Linked DNA regions of Homo sapiens. The protein of the gene in region 6 purifies or fractionates together with the protein of the main gene of each other region. This does not show direct contact. Each region holds a gene or a part of one and is shown on either strand. Other genes may lie near its edges.

Region 1 (3,500 bases), on a different chromosome or scaffold from region 6:
AAACTTACATCTTCGAAATAAATGACAAAATACATTCCTGATGGGTTAAAAAAATAAGTTTAGAGAATGAAACCATGAAAATACTAGATACAGATGATTATTTATACAATTTTGGAGTAGAGGAAGATTTTTCTTTAAACCTGACACCAAAGATAGAAAAACTATGAAGAAAAAACTTCTGCTACATAAATTACACAAAATGGAAAACTCCTAGACAACAACCAAGAAAAGGAATTACAATCAAAACTAGAGTATACAACACAGTAGGGGGAACAACTGCAATATATTGGACAAAAAGTCCTTAATATGTAAATCACCTGTAAATATCAATAGGAAAAGAATGAACATGCTAGAAAAATAGGCAAAAGGCACAAAGCAATAATCCACAAAACAAGGAATTAGAATGGTCAAATAACATACGAAAAAATATTCAGGCCGGGCGCGGTGGCTCACGCCTGTAATCCCAGCACTTTGGGAGGCTGAGGTGGCAGGATCATGAGGTCAGGAGATAGAGACCATCCTGGCTAACACGGTGAAACCCCGTCTCTACTAAAAATACAAAAAATTAGCCGGGCGTGCTGGCGGGCGCCTGTGGTCCCAGCTACTCAGGAGGCTGAGGCAGGAGAATGGCGTGAACCCGGGAGGCGGAGCTTGCAGTGAGCCCAGAGCGCGCCACTGCACTCTAGCCTGGGCGACAGAGCGAGACTCTGTCTCAAAAAAAAAAAAAAAATTTCAACCCGACGCCCCCAAACAACAAAGAAATTAGAATTCACATAAAATCCTTTGTTAACTAATGTGCAAATAATGTTAAAAGTTGGCAGTGTTAACTGTGTTAGTGTAGAGGGGAAAATCACAATCATGTAATACAAGTGTAAATCAGTACATTTCTGGGCAATAGTTTGATGGAATGTACCAAAAGCTTTAAAAAGTGCTCATTGCTTTTGAAAGAACAAGTCCATTTTCAGCCACTCCAAAGGTAATTGTGGATGTATGAAGGGCTTTTACGACAAAGACATTCACCAGTGTTGCTTAGAACAATAAAACACTAGGAACGACATAAATATCCAACAATAGAGAATTGTTTCTCTTCCTACAATGTAATAATACGATGGAACTCCTAAAAAAGGATATACAGAAATGTATACACTTAATTATATATACGTATTTTTGACAAAAGATTGGAAAGATATACTCTAAAATGTCAGCAGTGGTTCTCTCTGGGTACATGGGTGTGTGTGTTTTTTTTCAGCTTCTCTGCTTGTCTAAGGAAAAAACTTGATTATTTTGTAAAAAGAATAAAAGTCATATTGAAACACCTACTGTTACTGGAAACTTTTCACATTGTAAAGTGACTTTCTAAAGAGCTGTTCCACGTCTCCATCTGACTACGATAAATTCAGTACATTTTTCTTTGGCTTTACTGCCTTAGTCCTGTTTGCTAGAACAGCAATATTGGGATTAAGACGCTGTTTCTCACAAGTGCCTCCGCCTGGCAGGCTCCATTTTTTTCTTTCCATTTACTTCAAAATCAACAAATCCCAGTTGACTTGGAGCCTGAAGGGACGCAGGACAGGAAGTTAACGCGTGGGTGAAGCTGCACAGAAGTGGGTAATTCAAAGGAAAGATGAATGCCAGCCGGACAGAAGGTCTGACCACATTGTCAACCAGAAATGCCCAAGGGGATTTCCATTCCAAAGAACAAAAGCTTCTTAGCACCATGGGGCTCTCTATTATTTTAAGCACTGAAATATCACTAAGGCTGGAGAGAAAAAATGGATGGTGGAGCTAGCTGCAAGCGTTAAGTTTTAAAGTCAGCAAAGGATCAATCACCTATCAACAAAAAAACACCATCAACACCCTTTAAATCACCAGTGAGGCAGAGAAACACCATCTCTCCACGAGTCCCACACAGCCAAGTCTAGCCTCCCACACTGGAACAGACGGATCTTTCTTTTGCTGAGCACCGGATGATAAACAAGGAGCACTGAACATTCTACAGACTCAGCATGGGGGCATCGGGGACAGGAGGCCGACCAGTGAAGAAGGAGAATTTCCAGGACTCCCTTCTCAGGCCCACTTGCAGGCATACGTTCACCAAGTAAGGGAGTCGGCACAAGTGCCCTTGCCATTCGCCAGCATTTTCCCCGTTTTTGCTTTTGTTTTGTCAGAGCAGGTAGCTGAATTTGCAGGCATTAAATACAAAATGAAACACTGATGAGGCTGCCTCTGCAGTCAACAAAACAAACCCTGCAAAGTTTCCTTCTTGTTCTGTGTGGCAGTCAGCGTGGGGGCTCCTCACTTCCATGCCATCCCTGAGTACCCACGCTCAAGTCTGGGAAACTGACCTCGGCTCCAGAGGAGGCATGGCTAAATGGTTTGGGGGTGATCCTATTTCTCTTGCCAGTGATTGGTTTAGGAGCAGGCACAGTATATCAAATCTGAACAGGAAGTTTGCTGGAAGATTCTAGGAAAGTTTTTCTTCTGCTCCTAAAAAGAAAGCAAAAAGGGCCGGGCACGGTGGTTCACGCCTGTCACCCCAGCACTTTGGGAGGCTGAGGCAGGCGGATCAAGTGAGGTCAGAAGTTCAAGACCAGCCTGGACAATATAGTGAAACCCTGTCTCTACTAAAAATACAAAAATGAGCTGGGCGTGGTGGCATGTGCCTGTAATCTCAGCTACTGGAGAGGCTGAGGCAGGAGAATCACTTGAACCTGGGAGGCGGAGGTTGCAAGTGAGCCGAGATTGCAGCACTGCACTCTAGCCTGGGCGACAGAGCAAGACTCCGTCTCAAAAAACAAATAATTTTTAAAAGTTAATAAAAATACTAAAAAAAAAAAAAAAAAAGCTGAGCGTGGTGGCAGGCGCCTATAATCCCAGCTACTTGGGAGGCTGAGGAAGGAGAATTGCTTGAACCCGGGAGGCAGAGGTTGCAGTGAGCAGAGATCATGCCAGTACACTCCAGCCGGACTGACAGAGTCTCAAAAAAAAAAAGCAAAAAGAAGTCAGCATCTCCTCTCCTACCAGATGGGATTGTGGGAGCATGTGGCCCCACCTGCTCCTGGCAGCTCTCCTGCAACCTTGAGGGGACTAGTTCTAGGAGAGGTACCCGCAGAGAACAACAGAACGTAGAAAGAGAAAATGTGGGGAGCTGGTGAATCATCTAACCTTGAAATCTTTCCCACCTATAGAATGCCTGCTCTGTGAGCTAAAAGATTCTATAACTGTTCAAAGTAGTTGGGTTTTCTGTTATTTACAGATGAAAGAATCATAAATCACTACATTACCAGTAGAACAGAACTAGTCTAGATCCCCTACTGCTATGTATTTAAGTTCTGATATGAGAATGTAGTCTCTCCGATAACAGGTAAAAGCACTGGCTGGGGAAGACACGTCACGTGAACACAGACTCTACAAAAAAAAGACAGGCAGCCCTCACTCTCCTTTCACCAAAGATGCCTTTAGACAGAGGCTTTTACTGGTTCTGGTATAATTACCTGACT
Region 2 (2,783 bases), on a different chromosome or scaffold from region 6:
TTTTTTTTTTTGCTTTAACAATCAACATTCTTCTGCATGATACTTGTTCACATGTTTTAAAGTTTCTTTAGGATGGTAGGGTGATTTTTGCCTTGCCAGGAAACCTTTGGCAGTGTTTCGAGACATTTTAGATTATCAAGACGGGGAGAGGGGTGTTACTGCCATCTGGTGGTCAGAGACAAGAGATGCTGCTAAACATCCTGCAATGCAGACTCTCACTGACCCCTCCCCACCCCTACCCCCCCTACACACACAAAATAGTGCCAAGGTTGAAAAACCCTGCCTGCCCTGAAGCATATAGAAGTGGAATTGATAAAACTTGAAATGTTTTCATCTTAATAAGTGGATTTCTGTAAATCATGGAAAAAATATTTTCTCCATAGGTTTGGAATGTTTGGAATTAAAGTTGCTCTGGCAATGCTGCCATTCCAGCAATTACAAGCAATTTATATATCTCAAGCCAGATCAGGTAGCAGCATTATCCAGAGTTAGCCAGTTCATTCACTTTAACTTCATGAACTAAAATACTTTGGCACTTTGTCTGCTTAAAAGATTAATTTTAGAGTGAGTCTGTTTCAAAACAGTGGCACTTGTGCAGATGGGGATAGTTGGAATATTAGGCTGAATGTACTTAATAAGAGCAAAATTAGAACATGAAAAAGTTTTTCTTGACACAGATGGTTGTTAAACATTGAAGACTTAAAGGTTTAAGAAGTTTTTCTCTAGTATATTTTAAATTAAAATTGTAATTGAAGACATAGGAATGAATTTAGACTCACTTGAAGATGTGTTACATGTCACCGTGGAATACTGTGCTGCCATAAATAGGATGAAAGCATGTCCTTTGCAGCAACATAGATGCCATGATCCTAGGCAAATTAACACAGGAACAGAAAAATAAAATTTTAAGTGGGAGCTAAACATTGAGCACACATGGATGTAAACTGGGAACAGCTGACAGCATGGACTACTGGAGGGTGGTATGGGTTGAAAAGCTACATGTTGGGTATTGTGCTTACTCCCTGGGTGACAGGACCTGTACCCAAACTTGAGCATCATGCAGTTATTCCCATCTAACAAACCTGCACATGTACCCCTTGTATCTAGGGGATATATGTGCAGGTTTAAAATAAAAGTTGGGGGAAAAAAGACCCATGGTTCCTGTTTGAGAATCCGTTGAAAGCTATGGCCCCAGAAATGATGTCCGTACTTGTGTAAATACAATTTTGCATATGGTTTGAGGTGGTTTATGCATGCTTCTGAAGCCCATCCAGGGACTCACCACTCTTTACTTATATCCAGGTTAAAAATTTTGCTAAAAGTTGGTTAAAACACTTAAAGTGCTAAAAATAGATATACATGAAATGATCAATGAATTGTATCTTCACAACTATATTTATATCTCCTTAACCAAATGCTTCTGCATTTACTGATGAGGAAAAATAGGTGACTCAGAATTAGAATTCAAGTCCTCTAATGTTAAATATTATTTAAACTTTACATCTATAACCTTCATTCTTTATCTTTTTAGGTGTATGCAACAGCGTTATTGCAACAGGCTAACGAAAACAGACAAAATTCAACTGGAAAAGCATGTTTTGGCACCTTCCTCCCAGAAGAAAAACTTAATGACTTTCGTGATGAACAAATTGGACAGTTGCAGGAGCTGATGCAAGAAGCCACAAAACCCAATAGGCAATTTAGTATTTCTGAGTCTATGAAACCAAAATTTTAGTCTATACAACAAAGCTTAATAAGACATGCAAAAATTTAGAACCCCTACTTTAACTGTCATTGGTTTTTGAAATATATTTAAGCTTTGAAAACACCTGTTATTAATGAAATACTCTTTTATTTTGGATATTATGATTGCAGTATATGGATCAAGATCACTAGTGACAATTGAAAAAAACTATTGGAATAATAGCACTTGTATGAAATTCAGTTTTGGAACTAAACAGCAAATTTCTAGAATTTTGCTGAAAATGTTTTAAAATGCTATTCTCATCCAGCCATATTAGTCTTCTGGCTTTTCTTTAGCTTCATCAAATAAGCATGTTGTGATAATGATAGATGTACAATTCCAACAAGGTTATTATTTTTTAAATACATTGTCATTCTGAACATTTTATCACTTCTAGTTTAATAATACATACATGATTTTTCTTCTGAATGTCTCTTCTCCCTGCATCACTGTTCATTCACAATGAAAGGTTAGGAAGAAGCTTTAAAATTCACTATTTTACTATCAATCATTTGTATAATAAACTATACAAAGTATAATACGTTTCCTCCAGTGTTTGTTTGTTAATAACAACCCCTGAAATAATGTGTAGCTACATTGAGACTCTCATTTATCAACTAATAGTTGAGGACATTACAAATCAACTTAAGTATAAGAAACTTTCCTAAGATCTCAAATTTAAAAAACGGTAACCCCATTTACAACATAAAATGTGGATTTTAAAAAATATTATGCTAAATGACTTGTATCTTTAGTTATTGAAACCTGATTCCCAGTGTGATACTATTAGGTGGTAGAGCCCTCATGAATGGGATTAGTGCCCGTATAAAAAAAAAGCTCCAGGGAGATCTCTTGCCCCTTCTACCATATGAGGATACAGTGAGAAGATGTTAAAGCAGAAAGTGGCCCCTCATGAGACACTGAATCTGCTGGTGCCCTGGTCTTGTACTTTGCAGTCTCCAAAACGTGAGAAACAGATTTCTATTTATAAGCCACCCAGTTTAGGGTAATTTGTTATAGCAGCCCAAAGAGACTAAGA
Region 3 (4,232 bases), on a different chromosome or scaffold from region 6:
CATAAAATAGGTAAGAGCAGATCGTTTTCTTCATCAGAAATATCTGGAAAAAAAAAAGCCACCAAGCACTGTATGTGTCAATTTCTCACCTTTTTTTAAAAAAAAAAAGAGTGGGCTGCTACAGTGGATATGTTCTACATCTCTTTGGGGCAGTGATTACATACAATTGTCATAACTCGATGGAACTGTCTACAGGATCTGTGTATTTTCTTTTAAGTAATTTATAACTCAACTTTTTTTATGGGAAGCTGTAGTTAACACTGGATAGTTAATACTTGGCTGATAAGAAACCGACTTGTTACAGAGAAAATGAGTCCCTTCCATCTTGGGCACAAAACGGCTCCACAAGACCAGCCTAGCTCTCTGGGCAGGCAGGTAACACTGGCAGGCAGAGGCATGCTCCTTGAATCTCACTGAGGGGGACAAGTGTTAGTGCGAGGCAGGTAGGAGCAAGGCCGCACACGCAGACTCTGTCATCTGGGCAGCTGCCCAATCCCCGTTTTTCATTTGTAACAAAAATAGTGTCCACCTCTTAATAATGTTCTGAGGATTAAGGGCGTTAAGTCGGATGTTTGTTGAAAGCACTTAGGCATAGTAGGAAGTACTAAGTAAATATGTCTTACCACTATTTATTATAAAAGATGAACAGGCTGGCCCGGCGTGGTAGCTCACGCCTGTAATCCCAGCACTTTGGGAGGCCGAGGCGGGCGGATCACGAGGTCAGGAGATCAAGACCTTCCTGGCTAACACAATGAAACCCGGTCTCTACTAAAAATACAAAAAATTAGCCGGGCGTGGTGGCGGACGCCTATAGTCCCAGCTACTCGGGAGGCCGAGGCAGGAGGATGGCGTGAACCCGGGAGGCGGGGCTTGCAGTGAGCCGAGATCGCGCCACTGCACTCCAGCCTGGGCGACAGACCGAGACTTCGTCTCAAAAAAAAAAAAAAAAAAAATGAACAGGCTACTACTACTACTACTACACACACACACACACACACACACACACACACAGAGCCACTGCCTAAAAATCTGGCAATCCTTCCTGACATTTATTACTGAATAACGAACGGTTACCAAACCTGTCTCCCAAATCACAAGACTCTTCCAGATTAAAATGTCTCTCGCCCACTTGGATCCACTCGCCTGTCTAGGACACAAACCCGTGAGGCACCAGCCCCCGTGACAGAGGCAGATTCCAGCTTCGCCTCACGCCACCTCACGCCTCGCGCCAGCCTTCCCACCACTGCCCGCGCAGCCCGCGCGGCGTCACGTGACCTCTAGTTCCGCACCGCCCCCCCCACCCCCCGGCCTAGCTGCCGGATCCCCGCCCCGGCTCGTCCGCGGTGTCACATGACACCTGGACCAGCCGCTGGCCAATCCCCTCCCTCCCGGGTTGCGAGGCATCACGTGGACGCTACTCGCTATCCCCGGCCTGTTGGCTTCTTCCGCGCTGGAGTATCCAGATAGGCGACACGCCGGCGGGCGGCTGAGGCGGGAATGGCTGCTGTACTGCAGCGCGTCGAGCGGCTGTCCAATCGAGTCGTGCGTGTGTTGGGCTGTAACCCGGGTCCCATGACCCTCCAAGGCACCAACACCTACCTAGTGGGGACCGGCCCCAGGTAAACGTCCCTCTCCAACCTCCCCAACGTTCGCAGCCGGCCCCGGAGCCCGGGCTTTGACTGATCGCGGCTGCGCGGGCAGTGGAGAGCGCCGCGTCCTGTCCCTAGCTGGGCAGCCCCGCGCCTAGCAGCCCCGTCGGGACTGCACGCAGACACTCGGATCTCGAAGCTAGCTAAAATACGACCACCCCAGGTGATAGCTCTCTAATTTAGGGAGAAATGGAAAAAAAAAAAAAAAAAAAAAAAAAAACTTCTGTTTTGAAACCCGATTTACTGTTCTTGATGTTTGAATGCCAGGGTGTGCGTGTTTAAACTGTTGAGAAAATTCGGATGTCAAGAGTCCAAGAAAGCGTTTACTTTGCTCACTTGACTTTCACTGGTGTTTTGCCCAGAGTGTAACTTCCCTTCTCAAAAGCGATTAATTATGTTGAGGCGATTTCCTCAACTCAGCAGCAGAGGGCAGGATTCTCCTGGCTTCCAAATTGGTTCTCTGCAGCCTGTGGGCTCATAAGAGGAGCTGACATAAGTAATTTGGGGAAGTTTTTTGTTACAATTGTGTGTGACCTTGTTTGAGTTTAATTTGCAGACACAGTAACACACCTGTATTTCTAAGAAGATACTTTTGCTCTTGTTTAGCTGCATTCTGTTTTAGTGGAATTATGCAGGAATGGGAGATTTGGTTTACTGCATAGTAAGTCTTAGGCATTTAGCAACTTTTGTAGTCTTTACTGGATGAACCCAGATAATGTAGTTTCTCTTGAGCATAGAATTTAATTGTGCAGTCAAGACATAAATTATTTTTAAAATATAATTGATTACTAAAAACGATTTAGTAAGTACAGTTAATTGAGTTTTCCTTGGAAGTGTCTACTGTTTGGCGTTTTTCCAGTAAATAAGAATTTTAGAAGCAGCAGACCTGCAAAGTGGGCAGGTAAAAGATTAAGTTCAGAGTAAATAAGGCAGGGTCAGGTAGTTACCAAAGGTTTAGGCTGCCACCAGAATCTAGGAGGATAGAGAATTAAGCAGGAAAAATGCCAGATCTCTAGGGTACAGTCTGTCTTGGCTGGAAGTCCCTCAACCAAGTAAATCCATAGGCGGTCTCTCTACAGTGTGTCATCTTGAACTAGTCAATACCTCAGACAAAAGATGCATATTATCAGAATTACCCTGGAAAGTCTCTTAGAAGAACACCATGTTGGAGATCAGTGTATTGTCTCAGTAAGTTCAGCACAACCTGCCTTTTTTCCAGCGTTGAAACAGATGGCTGATTCTGTTTGAAAACCAGGTGAAGAAATTGGCTTGTGTTGAGGGGCTATATTGTATGAAAAATACATACTGTATCTTTAAACACTATAATCACACTCAACATAGCAAAGTGCTAGTGCTAAGAGAGACTTAAAGACTAACTGAGGGAAAAGCAGATTTATAGTCTCTCGTCTTAAATTACTTAACACTGTTGCTCACATAAATTAATGGAGTGGAATGGCCAGTGGAATTACTTGCACTATGTAAATTATTTCTCCATATAGTTGAACTAGAGAGTCCGTATAGTTGAGCTAGAAATAAGTGTAGATAATGCTACTGTATAAAGTAAAAGGTGTAAAGTAAAAGGTGGCTAGAAGTTAATATTAATTGGCCCCTTGTCAGATGTTCTGAGATTGGTATCCACCTGTTCCGCTTCACAAAACAGTTCTAAGATCACAAGCGGCTTTTGTATCACTAACCCCAATGGTATTTTTCTGTTCTCATCTTCCTTGAACTTCAGTGCTTTGACACCATTGACGACTCCCTCCTTAATTTGCCAACACCACATTCTTCAGGTTTCCTATTACCTCTTGAGCTGCTCTTTCTCTTTCACCTTGATAGAGTCATCTTCTTTATCAAATCTTTAATTATTTTAGTTATTCAGTATATAATCCTCATCTCTCATGTTCTTCTACTGTATTCTCTACCTAGGTGATCTCATCTACTTATTTGGCTTTGCCTTTATTATCTGTTTATTATTAACTACCAAATATATAGCTCAAGTTCAAATTCCAAACTTGATCTTCAGACTCAAGTAGCCAACTTTTAAATCTATTTGCATGACTCACTGCTGCCTGGAACTCAGTGTTTTCCATACTGAACTCATAACCTTTCCAGAAAACTGCCAGGTCCTCCTTCAGTTGTTCATATCTTGATAAACAAAGCCATCAAAGGAAATGCCTAAATACCCTTCCTGACATTTATTTGCTTCCTACTGCATATCCAAGCCATTATGAAGATCTGTTCATGTCCCCTGCTGTCACTCAGTCCAAGCCAGCACAACTCTTGCTTAGGCTACTGTAATAGCCTCCTAATTGGCTTCTGTACGACTACCTCTGTCTCTCTTCAATCCAATCTTCCCTTTGTAGCCTGAGTGGTATTTTAGGAATTAAAACTGGAAGGCCTTGTGTATTCTGGCCTCCATCAGTCTTATCAGGCTCCTCTCAAACCTCTCCCACTCCAGCCATGCTGGCCTTCTAGTGTCTCAGATGAGGTTTGTGATTCCCTGTCTCAGGGCCTTCACGCATGCTTTCCTCTTTCTTCCACTCATTCCTCCCTTCTTTACCCAGCTAATCTCATTCATCCTTT
Region 4 (3,500 bases), about 61 Mb from region 6:
GCCCCAGAGGCTGCTTTGTTTTGGTTTGTTGTTGTTGTTGTTTTGAGACAGGGTCTCACTCTGTTGCCCAGGCTGAAGTGCAGTGATATGATCACTGTTCACTGCAGCCTCGACCGCCTGGGCTCAACCAATCCTCCCATCTCAGCCTCCCAAGTAGCTGGGACTACAGGCACATGCCACCACACCCAGCTAATTAAAAAAAATTTTTTTATAGAGATGGGATCTCACTATGTTGCCCAGGCTGGTCTCGCTTGAACTCCTGGACTCAAGCAATCCTCCTGCCTTGGCCTCTCAAAGTGCTAATGTTACAGGTATGAGCCACTGCACCCAGCCTGCCCCAGAGGCTTGATTAGATTCAGGGTCAACTTCTTTGGTAAGAATACTTCATGGTGCCATAGGAAACACACCATATCTGGTCATCTCATTTTTTGATCCTAAAATTCATTGGTGGGTTTGGGTGAGCCATTTTGCTTTTTTAACAAGATAGTACAAACACTTCTTGCTGTTAGTAGTTGTCAGCATAACAGTTTCACCATCTTTATCAGTGTTTTGTGGTGTTTTCAATTTTTCCTAATCAACAGGAGGAAGACATCTTATTGTTTACTTTTAAATTCCCTTTATAGTTGTGCTATTTTACATTTTTCTGTGTGTTCACTTGTTTTATCTGTCTCTCATCAATTTCTTTTGACCCATACCTATTTGATTTTTTTGATGACCTTTGGAATGAATTTGGACAAAATCCTTAGGTAATGTAGATTTTAAGCTTTTCTCACTCAGTACTTTGTCCATTCTTTGTTGCTTTTTACCCTTCATTATGCCATCTTTTATGTATTGAAGTAATTTTGATATTAGATAGTCTAATCTGGTGATCCTTTTCCTTGTCAAGCCTGGACTTCTAGAATAATGGGAAAGAAATAGCACCAGAATTTGGAATCTTTTGAAGTTGAAGATGACTGCAGGATTCAGCTGCTTTTCTCTTTTATTTTGCCAAAAAGAAAAAAAAAGGCCTAGGGAAGTCATGACTTACCCATCTTTACACAATTAGTTGGGGCCAGAGTTGAAACCAGACACTAACTCTCCAAAATCTTTTTTCCCTCCTCATTCTATCACTATCTCTAATGAGTGACTTAGTTAATTTGGAATGAGAATGATGGATTTTGTATTTTGGTTAAAAAAAAAATCAAAGCATTTTCTTACCATAAATTATGTATTTTGTGGAGGCTTGCTTCTTATTAGAATACTATTACAGCTATTATATCTAGTGGAAAAGTACTATTTCTTTCTTTTTTTTGAGACAGAGTATTGCTCTGTCACCAGGCTGGAGTGCAGTGGTGCGATCTTGGCTCACTGTAACCTCCGCCTCCCGGGTTCAAGTGGTTCTCCTTCCTCAGCCTCCCAAGTAGCTGGAACTACAGGTGCATGCCACCATGCCCAGCTAATTTTTATATTTTTAGCAGAGACGGAGTTTCACCATGTTGGCCAGGAGGGTCTCAATCTCTTGACCTCATGATCTGCCCACCTTGGCCTCCCAAAATGCTGGGATTAGAGGCGTGAGCCACCACACCTGGTTGAAAAATACCTTTCTTTCTTTCTTTCTTTCTTTTTTTTTTTTTTTAAGATGGAGTCTTGCTCTGTCGCCCAGGCTGGAGTGCTGTGGTGAGATCTCTGCTGACTGCAGCCTCTGCTTCCGGGATTCAAGCGATTCTCCTGCCTCAGCCTCCTGAGTAGCTGGGATTACAGGCACATGCCACCACGCCCAATTAACTTTTGTATTTTTAGTAGAGATGGGGTTTCACCATGTTGGTCAGGCTGGTCTCAAACTTCTGACCTCGTGATCCTCCTGCCTTGGCCTCCCAAAGTGCTGGGATTACAGCCGTGAGCCACCGTGCCCGGCTGAAAAATACCATTTCTTATTCAGTTTTATATACTTTAAATTTTAGAACCACTTTGATCTCTTTTCTTTTTCTTTTTCTCTTTTTCTTTTTCTTTTCTGACAGGGTTTTACTCTGTCACCTAGGCTGGAGTGCAGTGGTACATTCTCAGCTCACTGCAACCTCCGCCTCCCGGGTTCAAGTGATCCTCCTTCCTCAGCCTCCCAAGTAGCTGGAACTACAGGTGCGCACCACCATGCCCAGCTAATTTTTATATTTTTAGCAGAGATGGGGTTTCACCATGCTGGCCAAGCTGGTCTCAAACTCCTGACCTCAGGTGATCCACCCGCCTCGGCCTCCCAAAGGGCTGGGATTACAGACATGAGCCACCATGCCCGGACAATTTATTTATTTTCTTTTTGAGACAGGGTCTCTCTGTCGCCCAGGCTGGAGTGCAGTGGTGCGATCATGGCTCACTCCAGCCTCAACTTCCCAGGCTCAAGTGATCCTTCCACCTCAGCCTCCCTGGTAGCTGGTACTATAGACACGCACCACCATGCCTGGCTAATTTTTTATGTTTTGTGGAGACAGGATCTTACCATGTTGCCCAGGCTGGGTCTCAAACTCCTGGGCTAAGCAGTGTCCCACCTCAGCCTCCTGTAGTGCTACGACTACAGACGCAAGCCACCGTGCCTGGCCAACTTTGAGAATTTAAAGTATTATTGTTGTTTAAGAGTAAAAAATGATCTGATTTTGACCAATATTTTGCCCAACAGGAAGCCAGCAGACCTGCAGAACTTGGCTCCCGGGACCCACCCACCATTTATAACTTTCAACAGTGAAGTCAAAACGGATGTAAATAAGATTGAGGAATTTCTTGAAGAAGTCTTATGCCCTCCCAAGTGAGTATCAAGGAAAATACGTATGAAAATATTGTCACTTCTTTGAAGCTTGTGTTATTTGTCAGTAGAGATCTTTCTCGCAGCATTAATTTGGAATGACTAGGACTCTCTTCTATGTTTCTTATAATTAATGCTACACAGATATAAGAATTGGCTTCCAGCTAGGCCAATCAGCCATACTAAGAAAGGTGGGGATTTGTCTAAGCTGTAGAATATGTGGTAGAAACAGATTTGGGATGTGTCTGATAGGTCAGGAAAGACTGGTTATTTGTGGACTGTAGGTCTCAAACTGAGAGAGAAGTTTAAAGAGGAGAAGGGGTGGGGAAAGACACATTCCAACTGAACCCAGTAAGAATGTCTTAGCAGGAGTGTGGCACAGGACTGCAATGAGATTTGATTTCAGTTCATTTTAAAGGTAACTTTCTAAAGCTATAATCCAAGGACATTGACTTTTCCGACTGTGTCCCTAGGATTCAGAGTTTTTATTTACTTACTTCTTTGAGGTGTTCCAGATCTCTAGGTCCTGGATGTACTGTAATGATAGTTACCTAAATTGCAGATATGCAGCTTTGCATCATACTGTAATATTGGCATAGATTCAAAGCATTATTTGTTTCTTTTAGGCTTTTCCAGTTTCATTATCCTGAAAATTGACATGTTTTGTTTCTACTGACCAAAACCTTTCTTACTGGTTAACTTGACTGTTGCCCTCCATGTCCAGATATAT
Region 5 (3,500 bases), on a different chromosome or scaffold from region 6:
AGGGGTTAAAAATCATACCTACCTCAGAGTTACATGAGGATTAAATGAACTAATGCTTATAAAATGCTTCATAGAGTGCCTGGCATCTGTAAAAATTGTTAGGTTAAGAAGAGACCTAGTGGGTTGGTTACTGGTGAATATGTGGTAAGCAGATTTTTTGCAGTGGTCAGGAATAATTATCTGTGTGGAAGTACAGTCTTTGAAATGAAACAGTAATTTCCTATGGTGATCACAAGTTAAAACCACTTTTTAACAATTTCAGTCCAGTATCTATAATGTTTGAGCTTTTAGAAACTCTTGTCTTAACTTCATTCTTTTTGTTAATTTACAAAAGAGCATATATATGGGAAAACAGTTGGGATCTAGTTTCAACAGCACAGGGATAATGTAGTCTTTTTTGTTATGTTGCCAGAGGTAACTGATTATAAATGTAAAATTGTGTGCATATGTTCTAACTTCTTCTCTCTATAACCACAGTAAACTTGTTGAAAAAAGCCTATTAGTGAGTAGAATTTTTGTTGACAATGTTTAAACCTCTGCATATGGCATTAAAATGTAACCTTTATAAATCTTTGTGTGAAATATACCTGCACACATATTTTCCAGCAACATCGTGTTTTAACTTGTTAGTTGCCAACATTAAGAAATCAGGTTTCATATAAATATCCTTATTTTAGGCTAGAAAAATTAGATGATGGTGTAGCACTTGGTCCACTGGGTCCACTGGGTCTATTGTGTCTATTGCTTCTGGTGCTGTCACGCATCAGCTGCTTTGCTTAACCTGTCCCTGACGCACGCATTTTATGCTCAGTTCTAGCTTTGTTCTAGGTTCCATTGTAAGTAATCCTGTAAGGCCTGAAGCTTTGATAATCAATAACCATGTAAAAAAAAAATAAGGAAGCTAATGGTTTTGCAGCACAGACTACACACCAGGTGCTATAATTGGTACTTTACATATGTTAATAACCCTGCTTCTTTTTTGCAGCACCATCTTGGAGTAGCTGGTGTGCTTATTTTACGGATGAGAAACTGAGGCTTAAAAATTGAATAAATGGCTCAAGGGCACCCAGCTTGTGTATGGCTAAAACCCTTGTTTTTTCTGTGAGTTCCAGTTATTGCTTTTAATTGTTCGATGTTATTACTCAGTAGAAGTTGAAGTTTTTTGCAATTTGTTGGCATCTGCAGTATCTAACTTTTATAAAAGACAGGATTGCTTTCCTGACTGGGTTCGCCCATGTAGTTTTTTGTGTAAAGGTATGATTATGAAGCAGACCTGAGTACTACTTTTAGTTGTGTGATTCTTGAATCATGCTGGAACAGGGAGTACCCTTCATCTTGTTTTTCAGACTAGAGACATTTAAAGTAATGTTTCTAGCCTGATTTTTCAATATTAGAAAAATATACCAGAGGATAAAACACATCAGAATAAAATGTGGCTCTCCCCCGACCTTTAGTTTCTGCCTTTCCTGTGGTTTTGCACTTTTTGCTTTCATTTAAAGTGCAAATGGCATTCTCCAGGGTGCTTTATATGATTTAGAAAGTCAGGTAGTACTGCAGGGATTATGAAAAAAAGCAGCAGACCAGTGCCCTAGCTCCCTTCTTGACAGATTTCTGCTCCCCTGAGGCAACTACTTGTTGGAGGCCAAAAGAATGAGGGTCATGATCAACTCAGTATACCACTGGAGGTTATATGAGTAAGCAGCAAACTGTTTTTCATAAATGCAGAATGTTGGCAAACTGACAGACTGCGTATGCCACCCAGAAGGAATGCTGAAGGCAGTCATGCCCAAAGCACAGTGTTTCTTGTGATTAGGTACATCTGAAGCCTGTTAGTAACAATATGAACCTGTGATCAATTAAGCAGCTGACCAATCCTTACCTCCTTCTCCCTGCTCTTGTTACCCAATAAATATGAAGGGCTGTGGAAGCTCAGGGGCTGCCTTTGCTCACTAGAAGCAGGGAGCTCTTTTCTTCTTCCCCTGGCCCTTCCTTTAAAACAGTTCCTTTTGTTTTTTTGTTATTTCCATGTTTGTCCCTTCCTTCAGTCTCGTAATGACGGTCTCAAGTAGTAACAGTAGTAACTGTTGTAGTGAAGGTCTCAAGTAGTAACTGTGGCAATGTGCCACAAGTGGCGCCCGAACAGGGACTATCAGTGACAAACAGAGACCTGAAGAGACCTGAAGGGACCTGAGGAGGCCTACAGGGACACATAGAGATAAGTAGGGATAAATAGAGATAGAGACAGATAGGGAAAGATAGGGACTTGCACCAACTTGGAGGAACTAACAGGGACCGTAGAGACAGACAGGGACAGACAGGGATAGATAAAGACTAGCAAATACTAGCAGAGACTAGCAAAGACTAGCAGAGACCAGCAGAAGCTAGCAGAAACTTGCAGGGACAGACAGGGACAGATAGAGACAGGGTCCTATAGGGACTTGAATGAGGAAGTTCTGCTGGAACAGAAAAAACTAAAACCAACCAGACAAATGAGAAACCCCGTTACAAGTCTGCTTGACAACATAAGGAGATGAACAAACTGTGTGGGTGCCCTCAAGGTGTGTGCGACCATGGAATGGAAGACTGGAGAGATCCATGGATTCTAGCTACAGGCCTTGTTCCCCTAATACGAGCCATGAGCCAGTTGAATCTGAATGCGAAGATGGAATGAGGACCGACCGGAGTCACACTGACATCAACCCTCATGACATGGGGATAGATCAAGAAAACCACACAGGAAGCTGAGACACTGTTAGTGTCAGGGTCAGGCAAAGACCCCTGACTCCATGTTTGTGGCCATGCTGGCCATGGTTTCCTGTGCCTCCCGTTGTAAGATCAGCTGGACCACCAACTGGCAATTAAGGGCTGCACAGCCTGTAGTTGCCTTTCTCAATTAATTAAAAAACAAAAAGGGAGAAACGTTGGAGGTCGAAAGAATGAGGGTTATGATCAACTCAGTATACCACTGGAGGCTATATGAGTAAGCAACAAAATGTTTCTCATAAATGTAGAATGTTGGCAAACTGACAAACTGTGTATGCCACCCAGAAGGAATGCTGAAGGCAGTCACGCCCCAAGTGCAGTGTTTCTTGTGATTAGGTACATCTGAAGCCTGTTAGTAACAATATGAACCTGCGATCAGTTAAGCAGCTGACCAGTTGCTACCTCCTCCTCCCTGTTCTTGTTACCCAATAAATACGAAGGGCTGTGGAGCTCAGGGGGGCTGCCTTTGCTGACTAGAAGCAGGGAGCTTTTCTTCCCCTGGCCTTTCCTTTAAAACAGTTTCTTTTTTTTTTTTTTTTTTTTTTTTTATCATTTCCATGTTCGTCCCTTCGTCCCGTCTCCTAATGAGGGTCTCAAGTAGTAACAGTAGTAACTGTTGTAGTGATGGTCTCAAGTAGTAACCGTGACAGTCTGCCACAACTACTTTCACTAGTTTTGGTTTTATTTTCTGGTGTTTTGTCTCTAAATAACATGATTTTCTTGTTTCTTGATTTTTT
Region 6 (3,500 bases):
ATTTTTTCATTGTAGCTGACTATTTAATAAAGTGCATAATACTTTTTTCAAGTAAAATACCTCTCCTTGAGTTAAATTTTGATCTTTATATAATGAGTTTTCTTAAAGGACAACACAATCATGCCATTACCCAAAAAACTGTCAGTGTGCCACAAAAGATTCCTGTGTCTGCCAACAACATAAGCCCTTGGATATTGTCGTAACATCACCTGACCTATGTCATTTGCCCGTTTAATAAGGACATTATGAAGATTAAAGTTATAATATTTATAAAATCTATCAAGCACTTCTGCATGGCTACTCTTCTTATACTTCACCATAATACTCTGAGGCAAAAAGATACTAATTTCTCTTTGAATATCTTTTCCACATATTATGTGGAATTTCAATAAATAAAGGGAAGATGAGAGTTCCCACATTTATGTATTGCCTAACTCCATACTATAATTATTTGCCTATAACTAAGAGACCATTTTTATCTAGTGTTTTGCCTTCTGAGTAGAAAAACTGCTGAATTTCAGAAAAGTCAAATAAGAATGAAGTTTCATCCTGCAGAAATTTTGTACTTTGTACATAGGTATCTTTTGATGTTTTGATTTCAAATATATGGAATGTGTAGTTTCAAAGACACGGCTTTTAGAGGTCAGACCTGAAGACCAGTCAGCACTTAACTCACTTTCCCCAGATTGTTTCCTCAGGCCTCACGTGATCATTTTATAAGAAAAGAATCCGAATTTATCAACAATGTCTAGTACTGTTCTTTTAGTGAAAAAAAAAAAGGTAGTATAATAAATTCTCACTTAACAATGTTGATAGGTTCATGGAAACTGTGACTTTTAAGCGAAGTGACATATAACAAAACCATTTTTACCATAGGCTAATATAAACAAGAGTTAAGTTCCTCTGGCATATTTCTAGTCACAAAAATATCACCCAGCTTCTAAATCAAAACCCAAAACACTTATAATATTAAGCATTGAAATAAATGTCAGCCATATGCACATTTTTTTAAATTAATAAAAACAAGATAATTGCCCAATTTTTGGCCAATTACTGAGTAACAGCAGTTGTGGTGGTGGGTTAAATCAGGGAATAAATATTTGCAAAGATAAAACTGTAAGGAGCCCCTCCTCCCACCATACAGCTCAAAACAATCACAAATATGGTGGGCTCATTGAGCACTTTCCTACGACATCATTTATTGTTGTACATTTGTATGATTATTGGATGCTTTATTACAATCATTTGTATCCATTCATTTTCTAAGGCACTTCTTCCAGTTCAGGGTCATCAAGGGTGGCTGGAGGCTATCCTGGAAGCTCGGGGTGCAAGGCGGCAACCCACCCTGGACAGGACACCGTCCCATCACAGCACACTCACCCACACACACCCACACTTGCTCAGACTGGGACCCTGTAAACATGAAAATTCACCTGCTGTGCACAGCTCTGGGATGTGGGAGGAAACCCACGCAGGCCTAGAGAGAATGTACAAACTCCCTACAGACCATGGCCCCAGCTCAGAATCAATTTTTTCTTTTTCCTCATCAAAGTTGAGCAAAATGATGTTATTTGAGGAACTGTTTTACTGTTAAATTGTCATTGCTATTACTTAATTTCTGATCAGAGATTATCAATGTGTTTATTATTGCCTAAATAAAAATTTCATTCCTATTGTAGTAAAATATACATAACATAAAATTTACCATTTTAACCATTTTTAAGTGTACAGTTCAGAGGCATGAACATTCACAGTGTTAGGCAACCATCACCACCAGGCATCTCCAGAACTTTTTCATCTTCCCAAACTGAAACTTCCTATCCATTAAACAATAACTCCCCATTTACCCTTCCCCATGGCTCCTGGAAACCACCATCCTGCTTTCTGCCCTTTTGAATTTGAAAAAGTTTATTCTTAAGGGCAGTAGTTTGAAATCATTTTTTGTAGTCTCTTTAGTGAAGCTGTTCTCTGTGGTAAGAGAGAACTGTGTGATGCTTTAAGGTCATTATTTATAGATAAAAGAAATGATGTACAGTCACTGGTGCCACCTGCTCACTATGTTCCATGACATCTATTACAGGCAGAGAATTTTTTGTGGGCCTTTCCAAAAGGACAAATCAACGAGGTGCTGAAATCTTGGCTGATACTTTTAAGGTAGGTAAAAGGTAGTTTATGCCTGGCACAAAGCAATTACTTAATAAATAATCATAGAACCATTGAATCAATGTCATGAGTAATGGTGTTTACGCTTCACTGGCTTTGTACAATAATTCGTAATGTTTGTACATTTACTAGAAGTTTTAGAAGCTATAAAATTCAAATTCCTCAATAATTCAGCTTCACTGGGCTACCACAAGAACAACTAAGTTAGCATGGGCATCTTCTGTCTTCTCCCAGTGTATAATTATACAACCACCTGGCAGATGTTCCTGGAACAATCAACAACTTAAAAAAAAATCTGGAAGGCCGGGCGTGATGGCTCACACCTATAATCCCAGCACTTTGGGAGGCCAAGGCAGGAGGATTGCATGAGCCCAGGAGTTCCAAATGAGCCTGGGCAACATGGTGAGACCCTGTTTCTAAAAAAAAAAAAAAAAAACTTGGAAACCCAATTGACTCTGTTATGAAATACAGATTTTTTTTAGATTGGAATCAGGGGTCACCTGTGCTTGAGTGCCTTCTGTGTGCTGTAAACTGTGCTAGGTGTTGCACGTACATCCTCTTAAGGTCCCTTTACTCTATTGATTATTAATAGATTGGCTCTCTACACTGCATAGGAAGGGATATAACTCTCAAGATGCTCCGTTCCCCATGAGGATGTGAGTCTCCAGCTGAGCCACTGTTTACACAGGATATTCAAATACACCCTCCCAGAGTAGCCCACTCCATAGATCAAACAGCCAGCAAAGATGTTGCAGCAGTCACACATCTGGTGACTCTACTGTCTTCTTAGAAGCAGTCTTCGTTTAACTAGCAATATCCAAATCTGTGGGTCCCAGTTTTTCTTCCAAATATTCAAGGTCCCTGTCAGCCTTCAAGAAGTAGGTGTATTTCAGGGAGGTTTTTAATCAGTTTTAGAATTATTCTGCAATACTAAACTGCTTGTTTTTCTATTGTCCACGTAGGACTATGCAGTCTCCACAGTGCCAGTGGCAGATGGGTTGCATTTGAAGAGTTTCTGCAGCATGGCTGGGCCTAACCTGATCGCAATTGGGTCTAGTGAATCTGCACAGAAGGCCCTTAAGGTAAATACAAAACTGTGCTCCTTCTAAATGTAGTGGGGGTGCCTGCCACAGGGTTTTTCACATTCTCTCTGCTGGGGGAGTAACAAGCAGGGTTGGCAGGGAGAGAACAGGCAGGTATTTGAGCTTCTGTGATGTGCACTGTTGTGACCTCACATTCATTAGAAGCCAGGAACACCTAAGTGTAGGAAGAACTCTTCACTGGTGAACTGTTTTTAGTTACACACCAGATTTCCTAAAAAAAAGGCCATGATTCAA
Region 7 (4,180 bases), on a different chromosome or scaffold from region 6:
GAGGAGATCGAGACTATCCTGGCTAACATGGTGAAACCCCGTATCTACTAAAAATACAAAAAAGTAGTTGGGCGTGGTGGCAGGCGCCTGCAGTCCCAGCTACTCAGGAGGCTGAGGCAGGAGGATAGCTTGAACCCGGGAGGCAGAAGTTGCAGTGAGCTGAGATTGTGCCACTGCACTCCAGCCTGGAGACAGAGCGAGAATCCGTCTCGAAAACCAAACAAACAAGAAAAAAAGTCAGAACATGTTCTCATTAATTTGCAGAATACAAAAAAAAGATCAAATCAAGGCCCGCATGCCTACAGTCCCAGCTACTTGGGATATGGAGGCGGGAGGATTGCTTGAGGCTAGGAGTTCTAGGCCGCAGTGCACTATGATAGCGCCTGTGAATAGCTACTGCCCTCCAGCCTGGGCAACATAGTGAGACCCTGTCTCTTTAAAAAAAAAAAATCAAAAGATGCCTTTCTTTGTACTTTATTTTATGATGAAGTCATGAGAAAGCATTTGTTTCTGCATTTGTTCACTTATTTATCTATTGGAACTTTGCAGTCTAGGACATTCTGCACTTCAATAACTAAAGCCAAAGGGAATTTATTTTTTAAAAAATCAATGTTTACGTACTGATATCTGCAACTTACTTTGAAATGTATATTTTTTTTTAATGGAGAGAGGGATGGATGGATGATTAGATGCATGATAAAATATAGTGAAATGTTAGTTATAGAATCTAGTTGGTGGTTATATGGGTATTCACTACAAAGTTCTTTCAACTTTTCCAGATGTTGGAAAATTTCATAATGAAATGTTGAGCTAAAATAAACGCTGGAAATTTTGATACAACTTTTAGATAAAAATTTCACCCTATCTGGACATTTCTACTGTCCAGGGATCTGTTTGTAAAGGAGCAGGACCCAAAAACATTACACAGAAATCATACCAATGTCTTAACACTCTACAGAGCAGAATGTACTGAGATAAATTGTTCTCCAGAGTACACAAATCTGTGGGTATCTGGATCATGTTAAGTCCCAAATAATTCAGAAATATGTGACACAACTCTATGTATACGTACACATGTCAAAATAGCATGCAAAAGTTATATTTTATATATATCACGTAGGGCTTTACCATCCCTCAGTTATCAATGAATTAAAAATACTAAGTTCCAAGAACCTTTTAACAAAGAATATTTTTAGAAAGATTACCTTTATCTGGTTTATATAATACAAGACCTTAACTTTACTATTAAAATAAAAATATGCTCTAAAATGCATTATTAATTCCAGGGTGTAAACGGGAACTGAGTTTCAAAATCACTAACCAAATACAGAACCTCCTGGAGAAACTGAAAATACAAGTTTCTGGAAATTTTGTGTCCAACACAAAAATTTTAGGAGGCAAACCTGTTTGATGCAATTTATATACCTGAGGCTGAGAAAAGCTGTTCAGTGGCCTAAAGTCCAAGCATGAATTCCCCCCATTATCCAAGTTCTTATCTAAAGGGTTGTCAATAGAACTTATTAGGATTGCCACCAAATTACATTCTGCCATCTCTCAGGTACACTGGACGATGTTTTAAATCAAGTTATCTATTGACAAAAGAATAAAAAAGAACAGAACAGAACATCCTTCAAAAGACTAAAGGACATAAGGTGCACTGAAAAATAAATTACTAGCTTTTTTGAAACCAAAGAATGTCTACTACTTCATGAATATCCACAAATCACAGCGATAAAGGAAGATTGAGTGATGTCAGCAGTTCTGATTTCCTCCATCCTCAACCACATTAACCTTTCTCATCCTTGTAACAGATGAGTATACAAAGATAACGCATGGGAAGGCAAGTAACTGGTCTCGGAGGCTAACCCATCCCTCTTACTCCACCTCCTGTGAGACATCTGACTACGACATGCCACATACACATTTTTCTTCACCTGGACAATAAGTTCCTTGAAGGCAAACCCTGTGTTCTCTGGAACCTGCTCACATTTTCCCAGTGGTCTACACAGTGTATGTACCCCGAGTCACACTAACAAATGGACACAAGTGAGTTCTGCGGAAGTAGTGGAAGGTTTCAGAGACACTTGGGTCCTATACATTAGTGTTAGAAGTTACTCCTTTCCGCTCTGTGTCTCCATTTCCCCCTTCTGAACAAAAAGAAAAATTTCTGGACACCAGTGGATTTGCATTTCGAGTTATCAACGGCCTAGCAAACACCGGGGGTGGGAGACAAGCTCTGATTAACAGAAGGACCAGAACCTCCGGAGACAGGCCCAGCCTGCTGAGCCTAAGCGCCAGGGAACCGGCGGGACAGCATCAGTTCCGAGGTCCGCAGCCTGGGACCCGCACCACCACCACGAAGTTCTCGCAGAGCAAAAACGCCGGGCCGTCTCAGGGGCAGGTCCCAGCAAACGAGGGAGTCCAGCTGGTTGGGGGGTGGTGCGGAAGCGGGCACGACGACAGATGGACTGGAGTCAGCTCCATCGGATCTCCAGGAGACCGGGCACAGGAGGCCACACTGCTCCCCGAGCCCGGAGCAAAAGCACTCTGCCCTAGACCCTCAGGGCGGGGCTCCTCCGGCCCCTGCCCCAGGCCCGCCGACAAGGAGAGACGGTGAGGCTCGGACCCCAGGAGTTCGGGTCCTGGCTCGGATCTTACCATGGTGAGGGCGGTGGTGGGGCGCGCCCGCACTCCGGCTCCACTGGGGATAGGGGTAGGGTCTGGGGAACGGGAGCACCAGCAGCTCTGGACCTGCTGCCCCCTTGACAGGAACCGCTGCCGCTTCGCCTCTTGCCAAGATGGCGGCCCCAAGCCACGTCTTCAACCGGAAGCGGCGCAGGTCAAAGGGCGGGGGGGGGGGCGGGGCCTGTGGGCTGGGGAAATTGAGGGTACCCCGCTCCGGTTACGATTAAGCCCAGGAGGTGTAGGGGGCGTTCACCCTCCAGCTGTGGAACCTCGTATCTCTCCCCTTTCACTGTCATCGCCTTCATTTATTTTGCGTCACATCTTACAGTTTAACAAGCCGCTGGCACAGCCACTATTATTTAATATACAGGATAACCTGTGTGCCTAAAAGACCAGTATCCGGAATATATAAAGAACTTTTTTTTTTTTTTTTTGAGATGGAGTCTCACTCTGTCGCCCAGGCTGGAGTGCAATGGCGTGATCTCGGCTCACTGCAACCTCCACTTCCCAGGTTCAAGCGATTCTTCTGCCTCAGCCTCCGGAGTAGCTGGGATTACAGGCACGCGCCACACCACGCTCGGCTGTTTTTTGTATTTTTAGTTGAGACGGGGTTTCACCATGTCGGCCAGGCTAGCCTCAAACTTCTGACCCCAAGTGATCCGCCCGCCTCAGCCTCCCAATGTTGGGATTACAGGCGTCAGCCACCGCGCCTGGCCTAAGAACTCTTATAACTCAGCAATAAAAAGACAAATACAGTATTCCTGTCTAAAAATGGGCTTCATCTGCAAAATGGAGGGAGTAGAAAACACAAAATTAAAATGAGCAAAAGATTTGAATAGATATGTGTCCAAAGAAGATATATAAATGGCTAATATGCACATTAAGAAATGTTGAATATCCTTAGGGAAATGGAAATCAGACCCGTGGTGAGACGTCATTTCACACTCACTAGGATGGCTATCATAATAATTGTTGGTGAGGATGAATGTAAAATAGTGCAGCCACGTTGGAAAAGAGTTTGGCAGTTCCTCAAAAAGTTAAACAAAATTACCACATGACTGAGCAATTCCACTCATAGGTACATACCCAGGAGAACTGAATATATGTCAACACAAAAATGTGTACTCTAATGTTCATAGCAGCATTATTCATAGTAGCCAAAAAGTGGAGACAATCCAAACAAATCCATTCATCAATAGATGTGGCATATATATGCAATGGAATATTATTTAGTCACAAAAAGGAATAAAGTACTGACATGCTACAATATGGATGAACCTTGAGAATATTATGTGAAAAAAGACGGATACAATGGGGCACTCATATATGATTCCATTAATACGAAAGATCCAGAATAGAAGAAAATCCACAGAGACAGAAACTAGCTTAGTGATTTCCAGGGGCTCAGGAAGGGTAGGAATAGAGAGTGACAGTTAATTAGTGTAAGATTTATTTCTGGAATAATTAAAACATTCTGGAATTAAGCCAGGCATGG

The links.
Region 1: the proteins of DDAH1 (region 6) and GLOD4 fractionate together in Homo sapiens (co-fractionation; one large-scale study listed by BioGRID). This does not show direct contact.
Region 2: the proteins of DDAH1 (region 6) and SDHAF3 purify together in Homo sapiens (co-immunoprecipitation; one large-scale study listed by IntAct). This does not show direct contact.
Region 3: the proteins of DDAH1 (region 6) and LACTB2 fractionate together in Homo sapiens (co-fractionation; one large-scale study listed by BioGRID). This does not show direct contact.
Region 4: the proteins of DDAH1 (region 6) and CLIC4 fractionate together in Homo sapiens (co-fractionation; one large-scale study listed by BioGRID). This does not show direct contact.
Region 5: the proteins of DDAH1 (region 6) and EPB41L2 purify together in Homo sapiens (affinity purification with mass spectrometry; one large-scale study listed by BioGRID and IntAct). This does not show direct contact.
Region 7: the proteins of DDAH1 (region 6) and ARCN1 fractionate together in Homo sapiens (co-fractionation; one large-scale study listed by BioGRID). This does not show direct contact.

What each region holds. Positions count from the first base shown.
Region 1 is NC_000017.11:772,281-775,780, forward strand, and holds part of GLOD4 (glyoxalase domain-containing protein 4), read right to left. Parts: coding exon 3,495-3,500; intron 1-3,494.
Region 2 is NC_000007.14:97,179,481-97,182,263, forward strand, and holds the end of SDHAF3 (succinate dehydrogenase assembly factor 3, mitochondrial precursor), read left to right. Parts: intron 1-779; exon of another isoform or gene 780-869; intron 870-1,531; coding exon 1,532-1,735; 3' UTR 1,736-2,283; downstream 2,284-2,783. UniProt on the Homo sapiens protein: Plays an essential role in the assembly of succinate dehydrogenase (SDH), an enzyme complex (also referred to as respiratory complex II) that is a component of both the tricarboxylic acid (TCA) cycle and the mitochondrial electron transport chain, and which couples the oxidation of succinate to fumarate with the reduction of ubiquinone (coenzyme Q) to ubiquinol.
Region 3 is NC_000008.11:70,666,386-70,670,617, reverse strand, and holds the start of LACTB2 (endoribonuclease LACTB2), read left to right. Parts: upstream 1-1,432; 5' UTR 1,433-1,497; coding exon 1,498-1,619; intron 1,620-4,232.
Region 4 is NC_000001.11:24,811,447-24,814,946, forward strand, and holds part of CLIC4 (chloride intracellular channel protein 4), read left to right. Parts: intron 1-2,647; coding exon 2,648-2,773; intron 2,774-3,500. UniProt on the Homo sapiens protein: In the soluble state, catalyzes glutaredoxin-like thiol disulfide exchange reactions with reduced glutathione as electron donor. Can insert into membranes and form voltage-dependent multi-ion conductive channels.
Region 5 is NC_000006.12:131,053,246-131,056,745, reverse strand, and holds part of EPB41L2 (band 4.1-like protein 2), read left to right. Parts: intron 1-3,500. UniProt on the Homo sapiens protein: Required for dynein-dynactin complex and NUMA1 recruitment at the mitotic cell cortex during anaphase.
Region 6 is NC_000001.11:85,350,160-85,353,659, reverse strand, and holds part of DDAH1 (N(G),N(G)-dimethylarginine dimethylaminohydrolase 1), read left to right. Parts: intron 1-2,080; coding exon 2,081-2,154; intron 2,155-3,125; coding exon 3,126-3,245; intron 3,246-3,500. UniProt on the Homo sapiens protein: Hydrolyzes N(G),N(G)-dimethyl-L-arginine (ADMA) and N(G)-monomethyl-L-arginine (MMA) which act as inhibitors of NOS. Has therefore a role in the regulation of nitric oxide generation.
Region 7 is NC_000011.10:118,571,029-118,575,208, reverse strand, and holds the start of ARCN1 (coatomer subunit delta), read right to left. Parts: upstream 2,801-4,180; 5' UTR 2,662-2,800; coding exon 2,659-2,661; intron 2,614-2,658; exon of another isoform or gene 1-2,613. UniProt on the Homo sapiens protein: Component of the coatomer, a cytosolic protein complex that binds to dilysine motifs and reversibly associates with Golgi non-clathrin-coated vesicles, which further mediate biosynthetic protein transport from the ER, via the Golgi up to the trans Golgi network.